Homo sapiens: one gene and its partner. The protein of the gene in region 1 purifies or fractionates together with the protein of each later gene. This does not show direct contact. Each region holds a gene or a part of one and is shown in the gene's direction. Other genes may lie near its edges.

Evidence for each region. The genes of interacting proteins can lie anywhere in the genome.
Region 2: the proteins of RYR2 (region 1) and CAMK2D purify together in Homo sapiens (co-immunoprecipitation; one study listed by IntAct). This does not show direct contact.

Annotation. Positions count from the first base shown.
Region 1 is NC_000001.11:237,047,784-237,052,734, forward strand, and holds part of RYR2 (ryanodine receptor 2), read left to right. Parts: intron 1-4,951. UniProt on the Homo sapiens protein: Cytosolic calcium-activated calcium channel that mediates the release of Ca(2+) from the sarcoplasmic reticulum into the cytosol and thereby plays a key role in triggering cardiac muscle contraction. Aberrant channel activation can lead to cardiac arrhythmia.
Region 2 is NC_000004.12:113,750,800-113,755,750, reverse strand, and holds part of CAMK2D (calcium/calmodulin-dependent protein kinase type II subunit delta), read left to right. Parts: intron 1-660; coding exon of another isoform or gene 661-710; exon of another isoform or gene 711-1,278; intron 1,279-4,951. UniProt on the Homo sapiens protein: Calcium/calmodulin-dependent protein kinase involved in the regulation of Ca(2+) homeostatis and excitation-contraction coupling (ECC) in heart by targeting ion channels, transporters and accessory proteins involved in Ca(2+) influx into the myocyte, Ca(2+) release from the sarcoplasmic reticulum (SR), SR Ca(2+) uptake and Na(+) and K(+) channel transport.

The DNA of each region.
Region 1 (4,951 bases):
TCCTTTTACTCCAAGTGTGTGGTTATCCCAAAAGATTCTGTCCTATTTCCTGTTCTGGCTCTTCTGCCTTCATGAGCTTATCTATGTCACAAAATCTGGGATCTCTTGAATAACAGAGTCTGAAAAGACTTAACAATGACTTCATCCAGCTCTGAGAGCCAGAGAGATGAAAGGAATGTTCCCAAAGCGACTCTTTTTTGTAGGAGAAACCCACCGTAGATTCGACAGCCCTGGGCCTTCACTTCAAGCCTCTGTTTAGACTTCCCTCTTGCCTCTCGGACCCCAGAAACACCAGCTTGACATCATTGCCTGTTCGGTTCCCTAAGCGACTTTCCTTCCTAGTGTCTCTGCTGATCAGTGGCACTGCCGTTTGTGGCTGTGGCTCCAGTGTGATCCTAACCTTCAGAAGACCTGAGTCTGAGGCCGGAATCCACCAGCACCTAGCTTTACGGACTTAGAACAACAGTGCCTGGCTCATGGGAGTGGCTCAATGCATTTGTCTAGTTCTCTTTCTTCTCTTCTGCATCTAATTTGTCATCATAGCCCATCGTGTTTCTCTTTGCAATCCAACTCAGATTTCGATGTGTTTCATACTCCGTTAGCTTCTTGTTCTGATCCCAGTACTCATTTCAACCTTCGTCATCCTTCCTCCTGCAACAAATCGGCAACCCACCTAGAATCCGCCTGCCATTTTAGTCCTCCTGAAACCCTCGTGTCCATCTCCCAGCCTCAGCTCACATCCTTGCATATCCTGTCTAATTTCTCTACTTGGCCTTTTATGATCTGCCCCTTGATACCTTGCTTATGCTTTTCATCCTACACAGAGTTTTCTTGGATCACTCTAACCAATTCCGATTTTACCTTTCTCCGACCATTTATCACTAATAATTAATAAAATGTATGGAACTGATTGGGAAACTCAAGCAATGGTCAGAGAATGCTCTGACCCTGATGCTCTGTGGGTGAGTTGGGACCGTGTTGGGCATCGGTTTCCCATGATGCTTGGTGCACTGTTAACTACAAGGACAGACTTGAGAGAAATCTTGTGGCAAGGAGAAGATCGGGACAAGAGAAAGGATCCTCCTGCCCACAAGTTTAATGTGAACATCACTTGAATGCGTCCAAATGCAGAAAGAAGGAACCTGCTATGAAGGAAGTAGGCAAAGATAGTGGGGGTGGAAGAATAGAGGTAAGATCTCTTCTGGAAGCAGAAGAGTAGGAGTGTTGGTGGGTGAAATTCTGAGATGAGGACACCGGAGGTGTGTAGGGTGAGAGAGGCCAGGTGATGATTGCTGCTTTGGGAGGCCGCAGTGGCTCCCAGGTCCAGTGGGAGGGGACACCCGGAGAAGGCAATTAGAGAGAGGGAAGTTACAGTCACTAGAGCAAATGAACAAAGGAGAGTAAGAGAATAAATTAAGGATTAATTGAGTCTGAGTGATTAGGGCTGCCCAAAAGAAATACTGGTTTAGAGTCAGAAGCTGTATTTCAAATGAGCAGCTGTCAGGGGGTGAGGTGACTTCCAGGGGCACTGTTAGAGTGTCCAGTGGATCAGTTTCATCCCCTTACTTTCCTCTTTATTAATCACGGGAAGAACATTGGGATGAGGACCCTGCCAACAAATGGTTGTGTGACCTTGGGGCTGGTGGGGTCAGATAGAGATTTGTTTGAGAGAGGTAAAATGGGGAGGTTGTTTTCTCAGAGGGACTTGCGGTAATTTCCATTGTCATGTTCGTAGTCTTAGGGTCAACCAGACTCAAACCATTCTGCAGGATGAGCATAACAAAATCTCACCCTGGGACTGGAAAGAAAAGCTTTGAATGATCCTGGGGTCCCTGGAAATCCTCATCCTGGTGGATTACAGGCCCTGAAAGCTGACAACAAGCTTTGAGCCAGGATTCTTGATGATGGGTGGTTTTCTTTCAGGGAAGAGGAGATGTTAACAATAAGAGAAGCTTGCAGACAGGCATTTAGAAGGAGCTAGGAGAAGAATTCTCTCATGTCAGTAGCCCTCTTAGGGACTACTTAGGTTCGGATCCATTTAGTAACTGAACTCCTAGTGAGCTTGTTTGCAAATCCTCTCTATTGTCCCAGCCGTGAAGTACTTCTCTGGCTTCCATAGTTACCTTCTCCCTGGCTGGTGAAGAAGTGGCCCATGTTTCTGGGGTTTCCCAGAATGTTACAGTCAGCCTCAAAGCCCATGTGGAAGGTATATTTCCTGGTTTCTATTGCAAAAGTTCTGTAGTGGTGTTGCTGCAATGAAATGGAAGTCCAAGGCATTCCCTGTTAGTGACGGAGTGTTCAGAGGACCTACACGTAATTGCTTTCATGTTCGTTACCCAAGTAGGGGACAGAGAGAGAGGAGCCACTGACACGTGAACCCAGGGAGACCTCCCCTGGATGGCTGGGTGCAGGTACTTACCACCCACCAACCGATGATGAGTATCTGCCAATTTACTGGAAGAAAACCTGAAATCTAGCTGTGGAGCCAAGATAGATGCAGAAGAAAGCGAGTGGAACAGGAGAAAGTGTATAGGAACTCAGAGGCTGGCAGGGCCTTCCTGAGTCTGGGAAGGGCTGAGGCGGGAACGAGGACACATTTGCTCCCTGGGACACGTGGTTCTTAGTGTGCAGGGGAAACCCGCATGTGGTCACTGAGGGAGAGGCACAGGCCCACACATCTCATCACCATGAAGGAAGGAACAATTCAATGTGGCCAATTTGTTTTTCTACTATGGCAAGCACTTTTTTTCCTTTAACATTTTTGGTATTTTAAGAGTTTTTGCACATTTATTCTGCTTCTAATGAAGTTTTAATTGTTTCTCTTTCCTCCTGAGTTTAGAATCTGATTCATAATGTACATGGGAACCCATGAATTTCACTCATATTTAATGCATAACCAAAGATATAAACTGAAATGATACATTTTGAGAAGATCAAGAAAAGAAAAAGAAAGCTTACAGGAAAAATGATATCCTTAGTCTTGAGTCAATTGGGATATTGTTAAAATGAAGCCGAACAGCACACTGAGGTGATAGCCACTAGAAGTTGTATTCTCTTCTTTTCCACAGCAGGTTTCTGGTTTTCAAAATAAAAGCAATTATGATTTAAATTCTTCTAGCTTTTGCTAGAGTTTATATTTATTTCATAATCAAAGAAACTTTACATGAGGAAAGTTCGGTCTCACACACACGCACACATGTGTGCACAAATGAATGAAAGATATTCCACCATATTTTTTTTCACCAATTTTGACTGTGGTGTAGAATTCAGTTAAATTAGTTCATGTGTAGCAGTGAATTGTCTGTTGATCTCTGTTATTTCTTCCAGTGCTTTGGGGTTTTTATTTTTATGGTTCCTTTCCCTTTGTCTTTCCCTTTCCCTCCCCTCCCTTCCCCCTTCCCTCCTTTTCCCTTCCCTCCCTTTCCCTTTCTCTCCCCCCCCTTCCTCCCCTTTCCCTCCCCTTCCCCTCCCCTTCCCGTTCCCTACCCTCTCCTCCCCTTCTCTCTCTCTCTCTCTCTCTTTCTCTTTATCTCTCTCCCTCCCCTCCCCTCCCCTCCCCTCTCGTCTTCTCTCCTCTTCTCTCCTCGGGGCTCATGAGTGAGTTACTTTTGAGAGATGCTATTTTGATAGTGGCAGGACCAGCAACAAACCTGTACCATCTCAGCATTCAGGAACAATGGTGTCCACATGTCTTTTTGAGGTTGTACAGGGCATTCTTAAGGCACATTTGAATAGTCCCACAGGCTGAGAGGAGTTCCTCTGATCTTAAATACAGCATCAGCCTGAGGAGTAACCATTTCTAGTCAGGAGATCAGAGCTTTTTTACGCCGTGGCCTACCTACTGCTGTTGGCAACTTTATTTCTTGTAGGTGCATTGATATGTAATTGTCTGGCAGGTCTGTTCTAAGCATTGCATGTGTATTTTCTCATGAAATCCCTAGAAAATCCCTCAGAGGTAGCTACCTGCAAAGAAGTGAAGTGAGCCCAGTGTTTGCAGACACAGGCAGTGGAGCGACAGTTTCAGACCTGGGCAGGCTGGCTCTAGAACTCTCACTTAATCTTGCCATACAGGGGCCCTTTCTGCTGGAGATGGACATATTTTAAAATGAGAGGGAAACTTGGTGCCCTGCTTCTACCTGCAGGAAGTTACTTTATAATATCAAATGTGAATTTCTTACATTACCAGAGCCTTGCAGGCTGTGTGCCACATCATAGGTCCTGTGTTTAATGTTTGTGGAATTGCATCGAACTGATTCCATGAGATAGTATTTTACATAATAAATACAGAGTAGGGTAATTATATGCAGTTTACTAGGGTACCTTAATGCAGTGTGTGTGAACGGGATACCTCTTTTATCTGTAGCATTATACCAGGTACCTAAGAGATACCATGAAGGTGGAAGCCATAGTTCCCGTAGAGTTCAGATGCTCAAACAGTGAAACCTTATATGCATCAACCTGGGAACAGTAAGCTTATGGTTCTAGGGGGATTGTGTCCTGTGTAAAATTCAGAGGGTCCAAAAGGTGAAGAGATGATGGATGTGGTCATGATATTGGGCTCCAAAACTCACGGAGTAAATGGCCAATGGTGAAGTAAATGGTGGTAAAAGCAGAGATTCTATTTCATTATAAAATATGAAAAAAACATGAAAGGCAGAATCCAGACTATAGAACAACATGTAAGGCAGGAATTAAAGTTTCAATGAAATGCCGCCTTGATCTCTAAAAGTGCTCCAAAATCTCTTTTGTAGCGTTTCAGGAAATTTTGATTCATTTTATTTTTGAAACAGTTGACATTTGGGGGAGTGGGCTAAGGGATGAAAATATGTTTTAAAGTGCTTGTTTTTTTAAGGACAATATTTTCAAGAACTGTACTTCAGGAGCATGTCACAGTTATGAGCCTGTAGGCAAGAACAGGGTTTTTTTTTTCCTCTCCTTTTAGGGAAGAACA
Region 2 (4,951 bases), on another chromosome or scaffold:
TATACATGTTTAGAACTGTACACTGTTGTCAAATTATATAAAGTCCAAGAAGAGCTGTGACTGCAGTTCAGAATCCAGTGGACTGATGGTTCTGATGGCAGATAATTTAGAAATAGTACCTGTGATTTATTTTGCATTTCAAAGCCTCGTGGTGGTAAAATATTTTATGTGGAAGTAATGGCTTCTTGACATTCATCTCCCAGTGTATTTCTTGATCGTTAGAAACCATTTGACTATTACATAGATTCTGATGTGTCACAGTCACTGTTTTTGTAAAATATAATACATTATAGTATAGGGTTAAAAAATAAGTTATTACAACTGTATTTTACCTCTACTCCATTGCTAAAGTTAAAAGGGATTTCATTTTATATTTCTGTAAAACTTCAGGCTTAATCAGTTAAGTCATTTTGATATTCTTTGATTTTACTAGTTTTATTAATTCCTAAATTGGTGATATTAGTAGTACATGAATCAGGACTTTATAAAACTACTTGACCATGTATGCAAAATTAGGCCTCATCTATAAAATCTAAATGTTTTGTGTGTGTGTGTGTGTGTGTGTGTGTGTGTGTGTATCCCTAAGTAACCTTTTTTGATGTTGTAAAAGGGATGTTAAAAACTAATTCTTGCTACTTTTCTTTTATTTTTGGCTTCCAGGCAGTCAAGAAAGTACTGTAATTTCTCAACTTCATGGTTACTTGTCTTGAATTGGAAGTAGAACTGAGACTATGTAGATGGATTAAGTTCTGATTATACATTATTGATTTGGCAAATTGGAACAATTTGGACAAATTAAAATTTGAAGGTTTCTTGGCAAGAACAACATTTTAAGAAAAAAATTAGTAAATCATTTTTATATTTGTACATAGAATCTCCACAACTCTTCAGTTATGGACCCAGAAGTGGCATGTGTCATCCTTATTATTTTGTATCCTTTACTTACGTTTAGTTGTATTTACATTCTTCTATAGGTCTTGATATTAAACATTCATTTTCTTCTTTCATTGAATGAAAGCATTACTGCTCTTCAGAACTAGTTAGGAGACACAAATAATAAAAAAAAAAAGTATATCCACACTTCCAGGAAATAATAGAATTCTTTTCTGTATTTCATTAAATGAAGAAAATAAAGAAAGTGGTTGTCAGGTGCCATACTGTGATATTAATAACTAGTGTAAACCTCTACCTGATTGTGTGAGAACTTTGTTTAGACAATTAGATTAATACTTCTCATTTCCATTGAAATGTTGAATAAACTGAATATAAAAATTAAAATTTAGCAATATGTCACCTTTTATGGATCTTTTTAATGGTAATAATCACGAATTACTAGAAATCTTACATGTACTGGGCTTTTCTTGGGCATCTAACTTTTTTGTTAACTAGAATTTTAATTTATTTTTAAAGTCTTCCTTGGGCTTATACTGAGGTTGACTCATAGTATTTCTAGGGCTGGATTGGTATATTTTTTAACATCAGTCTTCCCCATTTATTAGGGTGTAATGTATGCAGTGTTTTAATAAATCATTGGCAATTAATGATTATATAGAGGCTGTGTTAAAGATTTTAAGTTACAATAGTATTTCTAGTAAACTACACTGCAATGCATTAAATGGAGTATTAGCAATATTTTAACTGTAAAACATATCTTTATATTTCAAATCACTTTATAGATCATTAAGCATATTCACATGTCTTTATGTGTTTATTTAATAAATATTAAATGATTTCAGTGGACAGTGTTAGGAAAAATAAAGGCTATCTACCTAAATAAACATAATAGAAGACATGAATGGCATTACAATTCAAGCATGAATAAAGTACTATGGGCTCTTAAAGGAGGACAAGATTATTTCTGCCCAGGGAGATAAAGAAAGCCTTTCATATAGTATTGATTTAAAGAAATTTTGAAAGCTATAATGTAGATGGGGCTTAAGTACCACCCCCGCCCCCACCCAACCGAAAAAAAAAGTCTAAATAAATGATTTGGGGAAGTTGCTCAAAGTAGTTTAAATATCTGATTATAACAAAATGTTATGTTATTCATATGGTAAATTTGTTGTAATTATCAGTATACAGTTATTTTTAGAATAAAATTATTTTAAATGACGTAGGCTGTTTCTTAAGTGACAAAATTCCTCTAATTCCAGTTGAGAGATTTAGCAATACTTAAGGAGAAATCATAGACCTTTTATCTGCCATAACTTCTCTTACTCTAGCATAGGGAAATTGGTAGGTTTGAAGAGGAGAGAGGGCAGCTTTTTTGTTAAGTTTGTTTGGTTTTGTTTTTAAATCTCTTAGCTATCATTGTAATTACACACAATGACACAATGACATCACTGATTTTTTTAGTTACCTGAGCCCCTTTTCTGGTGTTACAGTCTCATTTTAACTCCTTAGAACTATGTTTATTACTACCAAAATCAATAATGCCATCTTCATCATTAATAATAATTTAGAAAAATATAAATATTAATAGCCATTATTTGAAGAGCCCCTTCTATGAGACAATAAGTATATATTTACAAGATACTTTGTTTTATTTTATTTAATCCACACTGCAGCCTCCTAGAACAATATTATGTCCATTTTAAAAAAGAATACTGAGGCTCTTGTATAAGGCCTCAAAATTAGTAAGTGATAAGAGTCAGGATTTCAATCTGGTTTTCTCTGACTGTAAATTCTGACTCTTTCCACTGTCACCTCCTGTTGATTGCTATTAGAGAGGACTTATCTTAATCTGTCTGTATTTACCTGTGTGTGCTTAACTGATCTTACAAACTTCAGAGTCCTTCATACAAAGCACTATGCCTTACATTTTATCTTCCCATTGCAGTGTGGGGGATTGAGTATTTCTTTGGGAAAATACATTTAGAGTTCCAACCTGTGAGAGAAGATAGTCTTTTAAATGCTACTATAACAAGATCAAAGTGAAGTTTCAGACAGTCCCTCCATGCTGTCTTCTGGAAGGACAACAATATAGTGAAAAATGTTATTATAAAATGGTAGGAAAATGGTTAAAGAGGAGTTCAGTATTTTGGTAAACTTAATTCATTAACTGATTAAAAATATCTCACTATACAGTAAGTTTCTAGGATTACTTCTTCTAAATGATTCAGTTGTCACTGCAAACTAAAACTCAGCCCTTAACCGAAGCCCAGAGAAACCTACTCAGAAAGCTGTTCTACTCTTCTGGTTCATCTTGTTTAACCAGTGAACAATGGAAGACAAATTTTTGTTGTTTTGTAGTTTCCTTTTGAACAACATTGTTGTATGTAGCAAATTCTTACAAAAATGTGGCAATTTAAAGAAAAATATAAAATTGTCAAGTTCTATATTTGTTGAAAAAATAACTTAGGTGCAGCAAGTAGTATAAAGGTACACAAAGTATTGTGATATAATATTTATATACAGTTAATTGTTTTACAATAGGTTTCCTGTTTTCCTTCAGTTACATTGATTACATAGGAATGTTAAAAGTTTTATTGCATAAAATTTGATATATATAATTATATCATATATATTTAATTTTATAACAATAAGCACCCAATAAGCCTCCACTCAATAACTAGAACATTCTCCCTACTTTTGAAGCTACCTGTGTGCTTTTTGTTGATCCCTATCCTTTGTATCTCCCCGAGAGCTAATCACCATCCCTAACTTTTTTAGGAGAGAAACCTCTTTTTATTTCTTCATACCCTGGGGTTTTTTAATTAACTGGCTGATCTCAGTGGGCCAGTCATTCATGGAATAAATATATGTAGCCATTTTCTAGGTAAATTGTATTTTATTTTATTTTGTGTGGTATATGTGTAAACTCATGGAATAAAATACATTACTTCTCATATATTAGTATATAATTTTACCCTCTTAAATATAGGCAATGCTTAATTTATTTGGAATTTGTTTAGTAACAGGAAATTATTTTCTTCCTATGTCTGATAAAATTTTTTTTAAAATTATTTATTTATTTATTTTGAGACAGAGTCTCGCTCTGTCGCCCAAGCTGGAGTGCAGTGGTGCTATCTCGGCTCACTGCAACCTCGGCCTCCCAGGTTCAAGTGATTCTCCTGCCTCAGCCTCCTGAGTAGCTGGGATTACAGGTGCGTGCCACCACGCCTGGCTAATTTTTGCATTTTTAGTAGAGGCAGGATTTCACCATGTTGGTCAGGCTGGTCTCGAACACCGGACCTCGTGATCCACCCACTTAGGCCTTCCAAAGTGCTGGGATTACAGGTGTTAGCCGCCGCACCTGGCCAAAATTTTATTAATGATAATGTATACACATTGAAATAAAGCATGAATAACTTATATAAAAGTAACTTATTAAATGTAAATATAGTAAGTGAAAATTTATCAAAATTTTCTGTTTTATAAAGAAATTGTGGATAGTTGATATATGCCACATTATGCTATTAGTGTTTAAATTAAAATTTGATGTTTTGTTGAGGAAATAAGTACTTTTGCATTTTTTTGAGGCAATGTTCTGGATAATTTGAATTTCTGCTGAGGGTTATTTGTTAGTAATACAGCCCCAAACTCAGCATATTCCCAGTAGACTCATCAACTTTCCCCCTCTGTGAATGGCACAATAATTTTCCTAAGCTTTCAAGCATGCCTGATTTTTTTCTTTTTCTTATCCCATCTCAACACCTTTTTCATTTCTTCCTTTTCACCATCCCAATTTGAACTCTCTTTTCTTTTTGCTTCAACTCTTTGTTTTGTGTTTTGAGACACAGTTTCTCTGTTACCCAGGCTCTAGTGCATTTGTGAGAACCTAGCTTACTGCAGCCTCCAATGCCTGGGCTCAAGTGATCCTCCTGCCTCAGCCTCCTGAGTAGCTGGAACTACAGTCATGTGGCACCATGCCCAAGTAGTTGTTTGTTTTATTTTTTTTAAAGACAGAGTCTCTCTGTGTTCCTCAGGCTGGTTGGTCTTGAACTTCTGG